3 separate regions of the Homo sapiens genome follow, and regions 1 and 3 are each linked to region 2. Evidence: fine-mapped expression QTL. A gene starts in region 2. Each other region holds a variant in brackets. All regions are shown on one strand. Distances are from middle to middle.

Region 1 (4,246 bases), 22 kb after region 2:
ATTGAAAACAACAGAATTAGAAACACAGAGGCCTTTAAAATCTCTTACTTGGTAAACTGGTTTAGAATTTATAAGGAATTCAAATAGGAAATGGCAGAAGTAGGGTCACATTAAGGACTCAACTATTGCAAAGATTATGATGTATACTACTGTACCCCATGTGTATTTCAAATAAAAACTATACTGAGCCATAAAATAATTGCAAGAAAACTCAATTATGTTATGATATTTTCTTACGTTAAATATATATTTTTGATATATCAAATATTAAGTTACTTTCAATTTTTGTTTGTTTCCTTGATTCCTGGTGTTTTGAAGAAATTATCTGACAAAGATTAAGGATGACTTTCTCCTCCTTGCAAAGTGTAAATTAATCATCTGGTTTGAAAGACTCAGAATTTTAGGCAACAGATATCAGTCAAAAGGTTTTTTTTTTTTTAATAGACAAGATTTTTCTAACAGACAACGTTACCCAGGCTAATTTTGAACTCCTGGCCTCAAGCAATCTTCCTGCCTCAGCCTCCCAAAGTGCTGGGGTTACAGGCATGAGCCACCATGCCCAGCCCAGACAAAGGGCTTTTAAACAATGTCCTTTTCTTCTTCTTAAACATTTTTGTTCATTTACAGTTAGATATTATCTACACACTGGTTTCTCAATTTTCTACTGGTGAATTTTCTTTTTTGAAACTATTTCTTAATTCTAAAAGTGAATTCCTTTCCTGCCCTCTGAGTAGCTGATAATGTCTATTTACAGTTCAACTCTGCAGATATGATCCGGTCATTGCTTACCTAGGGAGGAGGTTGCAAAGTAAATGCCTCTTTTTTACATTTGAGTTGATCAACAGTGAGAATGTCTAAGTACGGTGTTTCTTCTCTCTTATTTGGAGCTTTTAGAGATGGGCTTCCTCTACTGCTTATCATAAACATGACAAAGTAAACAGTGTACAGAAATTCCCAAGACTGAGTAAGATAAAATGATTCTGAAGAACATCTGATGTTTTAATTTCTTCCACTTACATTAATGTATCAATTATTTCTTAGAAAGAGGACACTGTACATCTTTCAGTATTATGGTCTTCTGGTACCTGTTTATCAATGTTCATCTTTTTCTCAGATGAAGGTATTACAGAATTCTTACATGACAAAGAGCCTAGAGTCTTGGCCAGTGAGGAATTTCTGAGGGCTACTTGAAATCTCATAGTCTGCTAGTGCCTTACTCATGCAATAAATCTGTCTGTTAGATAAACCAACACCAGGAAGAGAAAATGAGGAGAAATACACAGATTTGAAGGCAATTTAGATGGTATAATAAAACTTGTTTGGTTAAAGAGAGGGAGAGTACAACAATGACTGCCAGGATACTGAGTGGAGCAGTGGCCATCATGAGGTCAGGAATACTAGGAGAGGGAAAATGAATTCTGTTTCAGGCAGGTAGAATATGAGGGGCCTGGAAAACATCCAAATGGTGATGCCAAGTTAGCTAAATGATTCAGGAGCTCAGGAAAGCCATTTGAGCTAAACACTTAGATTTAGGAGTCATTAACATTTAGATGGTTGTGAAATTCATATAATAAGTGAAGTCACTCAAGGAGAATGGATAGAATGAGAAGATAAAAGAAGGAGAGTATGGAAGCCTGAGAAACATTAGCATTCAGAAGTGAGCAAAAAATAGAGGAGTATCAGATGGAGAAGGCCTAGGCAGCCAGAGAAATTACAGAAAAATTAGGAATGAAGAAAGAGGTGTCATAAAAACTA[C/A]GAAAGATTTAAGTAAAAGGGAATAATCAGCAGTGTTAAATGGCGCAGAAGGTCAAATGAGACATGTACTGGGAATTGTATTAACCCATCCTCTCATTGCTATAAAGAAATATCTGAGACTGGGTAATTTATAAGGAAAAGAGGTTTAATTGGCTCATAGTTCCACAGGCTGTACAACAAGCATGGCAGCATCTGCTTCTGGGGAGGCCTCAGGGAGCTTTTACTCATGTCAGAAGGCAAAGCAGGAGTAAGCTGTCTTCACATGGCTGGAGCAGCAGTAAAGGTGTGGGGAGATGCCACATGATAACTCACTGATTATCATGAGAACAGCACCAAGGAGAAGGTGCTAAACCATTTATGAGAATGCTAAACCATCTCATGATGGTGAAAACCATTCATGAGAAGCTGCCCTCATGATCTAGTCACCTCCCACCAGGCCCTACCTCCAACACTGGGGATTATAATTTGACGCGAGATTTGTTCAGGGACACAGATCCAAACCATATCAGGAACATATTACATGTACTGTTTTGTAGATTGCTTTACTCCTTACAGGAAATTGTGAATATGTTTTAATTTCAGGAACTACAGATCTCCAGTGTAATTTAAAATGGCTACAACATAGCTGTTACATAGAATTCATTTGCATAGGTGCACCGTGATTTATTTATCCAACCACCAACTAAACCTTAAAGTTATTCTCAATTTTTCCTTTTATAAAAATTTCTCTGAATATGTTTGTATATAGATCTTGATGTGTTCAATTATTTTCTTGGGTTAACATCCTAGAATTGGAATTACTAGGACAAAATGTCTATAGAGTTTGAAGACTTTTAATGTATTTACCAAACTGCCTTTCAGTAAGCTGATTCTGAAACTTCTAGATTAAACCAGGGAGACTGGAAAAGGGGTAGGTGGTCAGTAGTGTCACCTGATTCTGGGCAGAAAAAAAATGGACATCCTCTAGAGAGAAGCATCTATGGATGGGAACTCCATAGATTAAGATCAAACAATTGCAGGGCCTACTATTGCTGGAAAAATTGCTGGACTGACCAAAGAGGAGGGGGCAGGCATGCCCTCCCCATTCTTGAACAGTATTGACGTGAGCTTTCCCTGAGCCAGAGGCTGCACCATCTGGAGACAGCATGCCAAATTAGGAAAATCCCTCAATTGAGTGGAGGGGTTGTCAAGGACAGTGATGAGGTCTGGCTCTGGGCCCATTTCCTTGGGTGTTCGTAGGCAGCTGCAGCTGTGGGATAGAGAAAGAAAAAAGCAGAGGACTGATAGAAAAACCCTGACTGGATGCACGAAAGCTTCTGGGGCTGGGTAAACGGGAAAGAAAAAAGCTGGAGCAGTTTTTTTGGGGGACTGGGGGACCTCTTGGAAAGTCAGTGAGGAGGGAAGAAAGCCATGAGGAAGACAATGGGCAAGAAGGTCCTGGGGATGGCGAAATTCGATTCTCCTTAGAGATCAAGGAAATTGTCCTTGCCCTCCAAATCCACAGCCTCCCAGTCCTAGAAGGTGAGTGTGACCCGGCCAGGCCTCACGCTGGCCCCATCCACCCAACCCTGGTGCCGCCCTGCAAACCAGCGCTAGCAGAGAGCCAGAGGATTCCTACCCTGGTCGTGTCTGTTTGGACTGGAGGACACGTGTGGGGCTTGGTCGTCTGCTTCATCCGCCCTCCTTTCCCGCTCCAGGGGGGTCGCTGATGCTCAAAGCAGGGAGCACACTTCTTACCGGACTTAGTTTTTGGTCTTTTGCTAAATCTTGACAGTTCATCACGACTCCCTGCTGATGGCTTCCAGAGTGGAGGGCCAAGTCTGACCGGAATGCCGTCTGAAATGGGAATGAAGGATCGAAATTGTGGGAGAAGTCTCTGCCCGCGACCCCTGTCCCCTGGCCGTAGTCCTGGTCACCCGGGAAAGGACCTCAGCTGATTGCTGAGAGGAAGATTCAGATACTGAAGGTAGCGCTGCAGCTACTCGGCTCTGCCTCTAGATGTCACCCTTGGAGTCAAAATAACAACTGGCTCCCGAGAGCTGCTCACATCACAAGGAAAGGACCCAGAATGTGCCTTGCCCCTCAGGGATTTAACAAACCCCAACTGGTGAATTAGACATATCCGAACCCCAAAATAAAGGACCTGGGGTGCAAGGGGAAGCAAATAACTGCTCACTCTCTCTCCTCCCGTGTCAGGTATGTGAGGAGAGCTGAGGTTAGAGGATGGAATGATGGTACCGCAATGAAAGTAACTGATAGAGATTCCAGGACTCTCTTTTGCCTGGACAATGAACTAGTTTGGGCAGGAGCTACCTTCCACCCGCAACAGGAACGGCTGCAACTTCTTACTGGCCCCAAGACTTCTAAAGTGCTAGGCAGCTGGGTTTCCCAGAAAATTCCTGTAAACAGCTAACATCTAAATTAAGTCAACATCAAAATGAGCATTTCCCTATCACCAAGTAATCTATAGTTGGCCCACTGAAAAGATTAT
Region 2 (4,246 bases):
GAGGCTGAGGTGGGCGGACTGCTTGAGCCTGGGAGGCAGAGACTGCAGTGAGCCAAGATCATGCCACTGCACTCCAGCCTGGGAAAGAAAGCCAAACCCTGTCTCAAAAAACAAAAACAAAAAATTCTGTCTCAAGAATTAAATGCATGTTGCTGAGTATCTCTGCTATCCATTACATGTTGTTGCCTAATAATACCTTAAACATCTTTTCTATTGTGACCTAGAATTATATTGAACTGTTCCACTGTTATTTAACCTTTCACCTTCATAAATCTCGCTAACATAAACTGCAATAAGCTAGTACCTGACACAGAAAAGGTGCTCGGTAAATATTTATTTATTGAACAAATAAATGAGTATTCTTAGAAACATGAACCAATTTTTTATATTTCTTTGCTATAGTTGTTTGTATTTCCCACATGCACAGCACCTTGCAGAAAACTGATATTAAAATATTGTTAAACATAATTTTCATTAAAAGCAAAGGTCAAAAACTCTTCTGTGATCCACCACTAAGTTTACTCATCCCTATTTGCCAATTTGCTCTTTCAGCAGGAACATTTCTGGCTGGAGTGATCTGCGTTCCATAGATGAAATGCAGAGAACATAATCAAGAAAATGCTCCAGTAATAATATAACTATAATTGAAAGCAGTATAAATAGAAAATTAATTGAAGATGCAGTTGTTGACCTCTAACTTCCCTAAATAATGCACCCCTTTAGACAGAGGGTAGTACTTTTCCACTAATGCTTCACAGGCCACCTCAAATTGCCATGCAATATTTCTAGTTGGATGAAAGTACAGTCACGTGTACATTCAAAGATGGACCACATATACAACAGTGATCTCATAAGATTATAATACCCTATTTTCACTGTACCTTTTCTATGTTTAGACACTTTTAGATGCAGACTTATCACTGTGTTACAACTGCCTACAGTATTCAGTATAGTAGCACCGCTGTAGAGGTTTATAGCCTAGGAGGAACAGGCTACACCATACAGCCTAGGTGTATAGCAGGCTACACCATCTAGGTTTGTGTAAATACACTTTCTGATATTCACAGGGATTAAATTGCCTAACGATGCATTTCTCAGGACGTATCCCCCTCACTAAGTGGCAGCAACGCATGACTGTACTTAAAAAAGCAAACCAGAAGATGGGGGTATGAGTATGACCCTGAATTCTCATTCACTCTCTTCGCAGGTAAGATCCAAGTTTGATTAATTCCAATTCTGATTGAGTCTGAATCAAAAAGCACATCAAAGACCACCAGAAAATAGTCAAAAATAGGTTAAATTTTGAATTGGTGAACGCTACCCTCTGCCTATTGAAAGGACTCCCTACGTATCTATGTTCATCCAGACAAGACAAACTCCTCTCTAGGGCATCCTGTGAACTATCAGTTAAGGAGAAAAGTTTACCCTAGACCTCTTCTGGACTGTTACAATTCTGGAAAAGCCAGTAAATTTTTAAACCTGAAGCACTGCTTTGGCCCTTAGTGGCCTTGAAAGCAACCACCTCTCTACACTTGACTCACTCCAACTACCGCACAGAAACGTGTGAACTTACATTTGAATAAATAACACCCTGCAAACACATCTGTTACATAAATGTCATTGGGTTGGGGTAAGATAACAAGCAACTTCTAGGAGCTAATGTGGGCAAACTTCTGAAAAGTGTGGCGTGTTTCAAATACGTCTTAGGCAACGTCCTATAGTGCAGGCCGGTCGCTCTCAGACTGTCTCCTCTTCAATATTCGGAAGAGACTGTGGGTGAAGCTGCAGTACAGAACCACAACACCCCTATTTAACGTAAAAACGGCCTTTTGGCCCTCAATCCAAACACGAAAAAACAAATATTGGAACAGGTCGCAAGACTACCGAAACGTCTGCCTCCAGGATCTGGAAGACAGTTTAACTACAATACCTCTCCAAACAAGGACTGCAAGATGGACACTTGAGACTCGCGACAAAGCACCACGTTTTCCAAGTGGGGCATTCTGGCAGGCACCACCGCAGAGGCCAGTGCAGCCAGCCCACAGGACCCTTGCACAAGACGGAGCCTCTCCCGAGTCTGGCGGCCCACGCTCCCGCCGGAAACCGGACCCGCAGCGTCGTGGGAGGAGCCTGCGCTGCCGGGCTGCGGCGTGACGGCAGCGCGTACGCCGAGCGTCGCCGCCGCTCTAGTCTCAGGGCCGGAACCATCCTCTTCTCGCTGGTCCTGTGCGCGCCGAGGTTTTGCCCATTCTTGGGCTTGGTGGGGATTTCGGGCTGACGCTTTTTCCACTCAAAGGCTAAGGAGACGACATGGAGATGGGCGAATAGGGAAGGGGTGGAAGGGGTTAAGGGGGTCCCGTGGGCCTCCAATGACCCCTGAACCCCGTGCCTTTAGTTTTACCGGCTGGAAGCCCCAAGTTTAGAAACCTTGAGTGCCTAAGAAGACGGACCCGGAGCTGGGGCCCTTAGAGGGACGTGGAAGGCGGACTTAGAAGACTAATATTGTCAAAAGATGTTTTTGTTGTCGTTTTTTTCCCTGACGACGTTGTGGGAAATTAGTGGCATTGAGTACAAAACAGGGTGTAATGGGGTTTAATGCACAGCTTGGAATTACTATTTTTTGTGCAAGCTTTAAACCAGATGTGGAAAGCCTCTCAGTCCTAATGGGATGAAGTCGTAGTGTGTGTTGGTGAGGTTGATAGTAAAAATAATGCTACTTTTAGCATTAGGCTTTCACGTGTATTTATTTGTGAGGCACCTACTAGCGACTAAACACTAGAAGATTCTGGAAATAAGATACAGAAGTAGGCAAGTGCATGGTGGAAAGAGAGCTTGGCGTCCTGAAACCCCTGGGTTGGGACCACTGACTGACTCAACTGCTGAATAGGGGGACTTTGGAATAGTTGAGCCTCAACTTCCTTATCTATAAAATAGGGATAATACTGGCTAGGTTATTGCTAGGAGTAGAAGATCCTGTACATACTACCTGTTATACATAAATTTAAATTGTGGACTTCAATCTGCCCATAGATTGTAGATCAGTCTTAGATTTGTGATGGTCAAAAGGATCTTTTGAGAGTTGTGGTATATAACGTATTAGCTAGTCAAAATAGTATTTTCACAGCAACAATTCAAAAGCATTTGCCCAGGTACTTTTTAATAGAGAATTCTAAAGGTTATAATGGGACCACCCATTAAATTTCAATGTCTCCAAGGGAAGCTGGCCTCTGATACTCTCCTAAGATGGTTATACGTCCGTAACATACTGTGCATATAAGGTATACATATATTATAATCATAACACGACATCTTTATAGCATTCAATAAAACTGACTAAACTGTCTAAAATGTTAGTCTCCCTCTCTATATACTTTATGAGGACAGGAAACACTGTCTTCACAGTTCAATTTCCAGCATACACAGTTAACGCCTGGCAGTTACATAATAAAGATAATTGTTGATCTGAGAGAACATGCCTTACCATCTGGATGATTTAGGATGGTTTCTCAGAGGAGAGAACCTGGAAGCTGAGGCTGAAGAAAAGATTCACCTGTGAGACCAAGAAGGAAATTGTAAACAAAAGAATGTACAGACAAAAAGGGACAAATGGGCAATCCCATAACTGAAACTAGCAAATAGTTTTTACATATAAACCTGGAGAGTAGTAGGAGGTCAGGCTGGGGACCAATAAAGAATTGTAGGCAGAGAAGCAAATGTTGAGATTTGACTTAGAAATATTCCTTCTGGCTACAGTGTGGAAAGTGGAATCAATTTCATTTGTTGAAACGACTATTGCAGTCTCCCAAACAGTGAATAATAATGGCCTCGATAGGCAGCCAAGATGGCCGAATAGGAACAGCTCTGGTCTACAGTTCCCAGCATGAGTGATGCAGAAGACGGGTGATTTCTGCATTTCCATCTGCGGTACTGGGTTCATCTCACTACGGAGTGCCAGACAGTGGGCACAGGATAGTGGGTGCAGTGCACCGTGCACGAGCCAAAGCAGGGCGAGGCATTGCCTCACTCAGGAAATGCAAGGGATCAGGGAGTTCCCTTTCCTAGTCAAAGAAAGGGGTGACAGACAGCATCTGGAAAATCGGGTCACTCACACCCTAATACTGCGCTTTTCCGACGGGCTTAAAAAATGGCACACCAGGAGATTATATCCTGCACCTGGCTCCGACGGTCCTACGCCCACGGAGTCTCGCTGATTGCTAGCACAGCAGTCTGAGATCAAACTGCAAGG
Region 3 (4,246 bases), 28 kb before region 2:
TTTCTTGCTTCCTAGGTTTTTACTAGAAATTGAGGTTACTAAAAGTAACCTTAACAATTCTAACATATATAATTCTGTACACAAAGTATACCCCCAAAAATAAGATGTGTTTTTAATGAGAATTATTGTTTTTTTAAATTTTACTTTAAGTTCTAGCATACACGTGCAGAACGTGCAGGTTACATAGGTATACATGTGCCATGGTGATCTACTGTACCTTTCGTCCCATCATCTCAGTTTTAAGCCCTGCATGCATTAGGTATTTGTCCTAATGCTCTCCCTCCCCTTGCCCTCCACCCCGCAAAAGGCCCCAGTGTGTGATGTTCCCCTCCGTGTCCATGTGTTCTCATTGTTCAACGTCCACTTAGAGTGAGAACATGCAGTGTTTGGTTTTCTGTTCCTATGTTAGTTTGCTGAGAATGATGGCTTCCAGCTTCACCTATGTCCCTGCAAAGGACATGAACTCATCCTTTTCATGGCTGCATAGTATTCCATGGTGTTTATGTGCCACATTTTCTTTATCCAGTCTATCATTGATGGGCATTTGGGTTGGTTCCAAGTCTTTGCTATTGTGAATAGTGCTGCAATAAACATAGGTGTGCATTTGTCTTTATAGTAGAATGATTTACAATCCTTTGGGTATGTACCCAGTAATGGGATTGCTGGGTCAAATGGTATTTCTGGTTCTAGACCCCTGAGGAATCACCACACTGTCTTTCACAATGGTTGAACTAATTTACACTCCCACCAACAGTGTAAAAGCATTCCTATTTCTCCACAGCCTCACCAGCATCGTTTCCTGACTTTTTAACAATAGCCATTCTAACTGGCTTGAGATGGTATCTCATTATGGTTTTGATTTTCATTTCTCTAATGACCAGTGCTGATGAGCTTTCTTCATGTTTGTTGGCCACATAAATGTCTTCTTTTGAGAAGTGTCTGTTCATATCCTTTGCCCACTTTTTGATGGGGTTGTTTTTTTCTTGTAAGTTTGTTAAAGTTCCTTGTGGATTCTGGATATTAGACCTTTGCCAGATGGGTAGCTTGCAAAAATTTTCTCCCATTCCATAGGTTGCTTGTTCATTCTGATGATAGTTTCCTTTGCTGTGTAGAAGCTCTTTAGTTTGATTAGATCCTATTTGTCAATTCTGGCTTTTGTTGCAATTGCTTTTGGTGTTTTATTCATGAAGTCTGTGCCCATGCCTATGTCCTGAATGGTGTTGCCTAGGTTTTCTTCTAGGGTTTTTATGGTTTTGGGTTTTACATTTAAGTCTTTACTTCATCTTAATTTTTGTATAAGATGTATGAAGGGGTCCAGTTTCTGTTTTCTGCATACAGCTAGCCAGTTTTCCTAGCACCATTTATTAATAAGGTTACTAAAAGTTACCTTAACAATTCTGATTAACATATATAATTCTGTACACAAAGTGTATCCCGAAACATAAGATGTATTTTTAATGAGAATTCTTACAAAGCCAAAAAAAAGTGTTCTTTATTGAGAAAAAAGAATAATTTTGTCAAAATTCTGAAGGTTATTTAAGGTTATTTTAGAAAGTAAATTTAAGAAAACAGAAACATGACAGAAAGGAACCAGTAAGTAGGAGACACAGATGTGCAAAGTTAAGGGTATAAAGATGTATTTTTGGTAAAAGAAGGTTAAAAAGAAAAGTGAATTTTTTTTTTTTTTTTTTTTTAAGAGACAGGGTCTCACCATGTTTCCCAGGCTGGTCTTGAACTCCCATGCTCAAGCAATTGTCCTGCCTTGGCCTCCCAAAGTGCTGGAATTATATGTGTGAAGCATCACACCCAGTCAAAAAAAAGGATAAATTTGAGAAATAATTTTGTGTGGTAAATAGTTTGTCCTAAATGTAGTTATTTAAAAGTATAAGAAAATAACTAAAGATCTAAGCATGTCATGGATGGTTTACGTAAGTCATTACAAGGTTTGTGAAGGGTAGATTTATTAAATTTGTGTGTGATCAAGCTGGCTGTAATTAGAAGGGAATTATTTGTAAGTCTTTCCAAAGATTAAACTTCGACATAAATATATCCCTCAATCCACAATATAAAACTAAAACTTTGGTCCACTATATTAGAAAGAAGTTTTTTTTTTTCCTAAGTATTGATCTGCTCTTAGTAAAAATTAGAGGTTTTCACTTTGAATTCTGAAATCTGCTTCTTAATAGCCATCTTCTAAACTGCAGTTTTTTTTGTTGTTTTTTTTTTCTGTTTCACAGTCTTCATTTAATTTTCTAGTTTCAC[G/A]TTAGTAAAGCTGTCTTCTTCACTTAGGATGGTAATTTCATTTCTTGAGGTAGAGTTTTCCTCTTAAAGCTTCTCAGACTTATATCTCAGAAGTTTAATGTTTGCTGCATCTTACTGCATGTCATACATCACTGCTTTCAACTCTTTCTCCCCTTGAGAAAGTACACCTTTAATCTTGATTGAGGTGATAACTCTCTCTTTTAACTTTTTCATCAGCTCCTGTCACTTTTTTCCTCTGATTATAACTCTGCTGTTAAAGTCTAACTCTAAAATGTTTGTCTTGATGGCCTACAAAAGCAATGTTTTCCTCCAGTATAACTTGATTCTGTACACTTGGCTTTTCTTAATGTGTCTGAATTATTCCATGTAACCAGAAAAGTTCCCATGCTGTTACTAAAAGCCATGTACTTCCCTGCTCAAGGTACTAGTTTTCTGTTTACACTCATAGTGTGTTCTCACAAGCTTGACCACACATTCTTCCTGTGTCTGATTAAATTCAAGTACTGTTTTCACTGGGTTCAACTTCCAGGTTATCTAAATGGGCTTCCCATAAGGAGAAGCAATCATACTGCAAGAGGTTTTTCTTTACTTTTTTGGTAACTGTCCCAAGAAACAAATATTTTGCATTTTATCAAGATAACTTTCTGTGTTTTCTTACTAGTTTTTTATTTTTTATTACTCAGGAAAATAGCTTTGAAAGGGTTAATGTTTTTTAAATCCAGGTAACTTTCTATATTGCTTTTGAAGTCCTCTGATTATCATTCTGGTTAAATGAATGACTATCATTTCACAGTGACCTGTGATCCTGTTTTGATCAGGTGTTTTAAACCTTTTCACATCTTTGATAGACCTCCCTCCCCAATATCAAAATTCTAAATTAAATATTTTTGACCTAGAACTAACTTGGATTTTCTAGCTAGGCCCCTGGAAAGCCTCAAAAGACATATTTTTCATATTGTAAAGATATTAAATGATTAAATTTATTTTGTAAATTGTGTAAGAAGCATTGCCAAATGGTAAGTAATACTGGATCTTCTTTCAGTTATATTTATAGGTATGTGTTTAATATCAGTGTAAAATTACATAAAACTTAGAGATCTAATATATCATCAAGTCATAATTGTGGTCATTATATGTATGCCACAAAAATCATCAAATTTCCTTGTCAATTTCTGATTATGGTAAACTTTCATCAAATTTTTATCCATGGCTATTCTAAGTCTCTGTCATCCTACAGTTATTGTTCTGATTTTTATCTAAAAGCATTTGCAATCAGATTCATAAAATAAGATTCTAACAAGTACTCTTAAATACAAGTTTCTAGTAACTTAAAGATCAATGGACTCAATAAAAATCTATCAGAACTCTAATGAAGAAATGATGGGCTCATGAAACTGCTAATCAAGATCAAACAGAACAAAAATTAATTACATGAGATTGAATAACTGATGAGGATGTTTTTATGATTTTTATTTGAAACATTAGTTTTTTGCTTGTTTTTGTTTTCCAGATTTGAGAAAATTTTCTCTCTTAATCTACCTATAGTTTATAGTTTTATGGAACTGCTAATTAGCAATTTAGTAAAGTATATTTTGTGAACCAAGGTGAAGCACCTGCTTTTTCTCCCCATTTCATTCCTCTAAAATTCAAAAACTATTCATGGGTATTTTTTTTCTCCTTGAAAATATGTTTATTCACTAAGTTCAATAAGAATTTGCTCTCTCTTTATAACAGGATATAATTGGAAACACTGGTTATATTACCAAGACTTTGACTGTCATATCATATTAGAAAATGTGCACAGAGGCCGGGTGTGGTGGCTCACGCCTGTAATCCCAGCACTTTGGGAGGCCAAGGCAGGCAGATCACGAGGTCAGGAGATCAAGACCATCCTGGCTAACACGGTGAAATGCTGTCTCTACTAAAAATACGAAAAAAAAAAATTTAGCCAGGTGTGGTGGTGGGCACCTGTAGTCCTAGCTAC

What was found. PIP is the estimated chance that this variant, and not a neighbour inherited with it, causes the effect.
Region 1: its variant is the best candidate, but not a certain one, in a credible set for the expression of ORC5 in whole blood (TOPMed, PIP 0.64).
Region 3: its variant is the best candidate, but not a certain one, in a credible set for the expression of ORC5 in whole blood (TOPMed, PIP 0.68).

The regions. Positions count from the first base shown.
Region 1 is chr7:104,227,858-104,232,103 of GRCh38, forward strand. No RefSeq gene overlaps it. Among named protein-coding and RNA genes, the nearest start is that of ORC5, 22 kb to the left of the region's middle. The variant C/A (reference allele first, on the strand shown) is at 1,756.
Region 2 is chr7:104,205,903-104,210,148 of GRCh38, forward strand. It overlaps ORC5 (origin recognition complex subunit 5), which reads right to left and starts at 2,111. Exons shown (of 14, transcript NM_002553.4): 1 at 1,931-2,111. The coding sequence starts at 2,002. RefSeq lists enhancers at 1,770-1,959, 2,000-2,079, 2,130-2,289.
Region 3 is chr7:104,177,437-104,181,682 of GRCh38, forward strand. The region is part of intron 8 of ORC5 (origin recognition complex subunit 5); the gene reads right to left. Among named protein-coding and RNA genes, the nearest start is that of ORC5, 28 kb to the right of the region's middle. The variant G/A (reference allele first, on the strand shown) is at 2,263.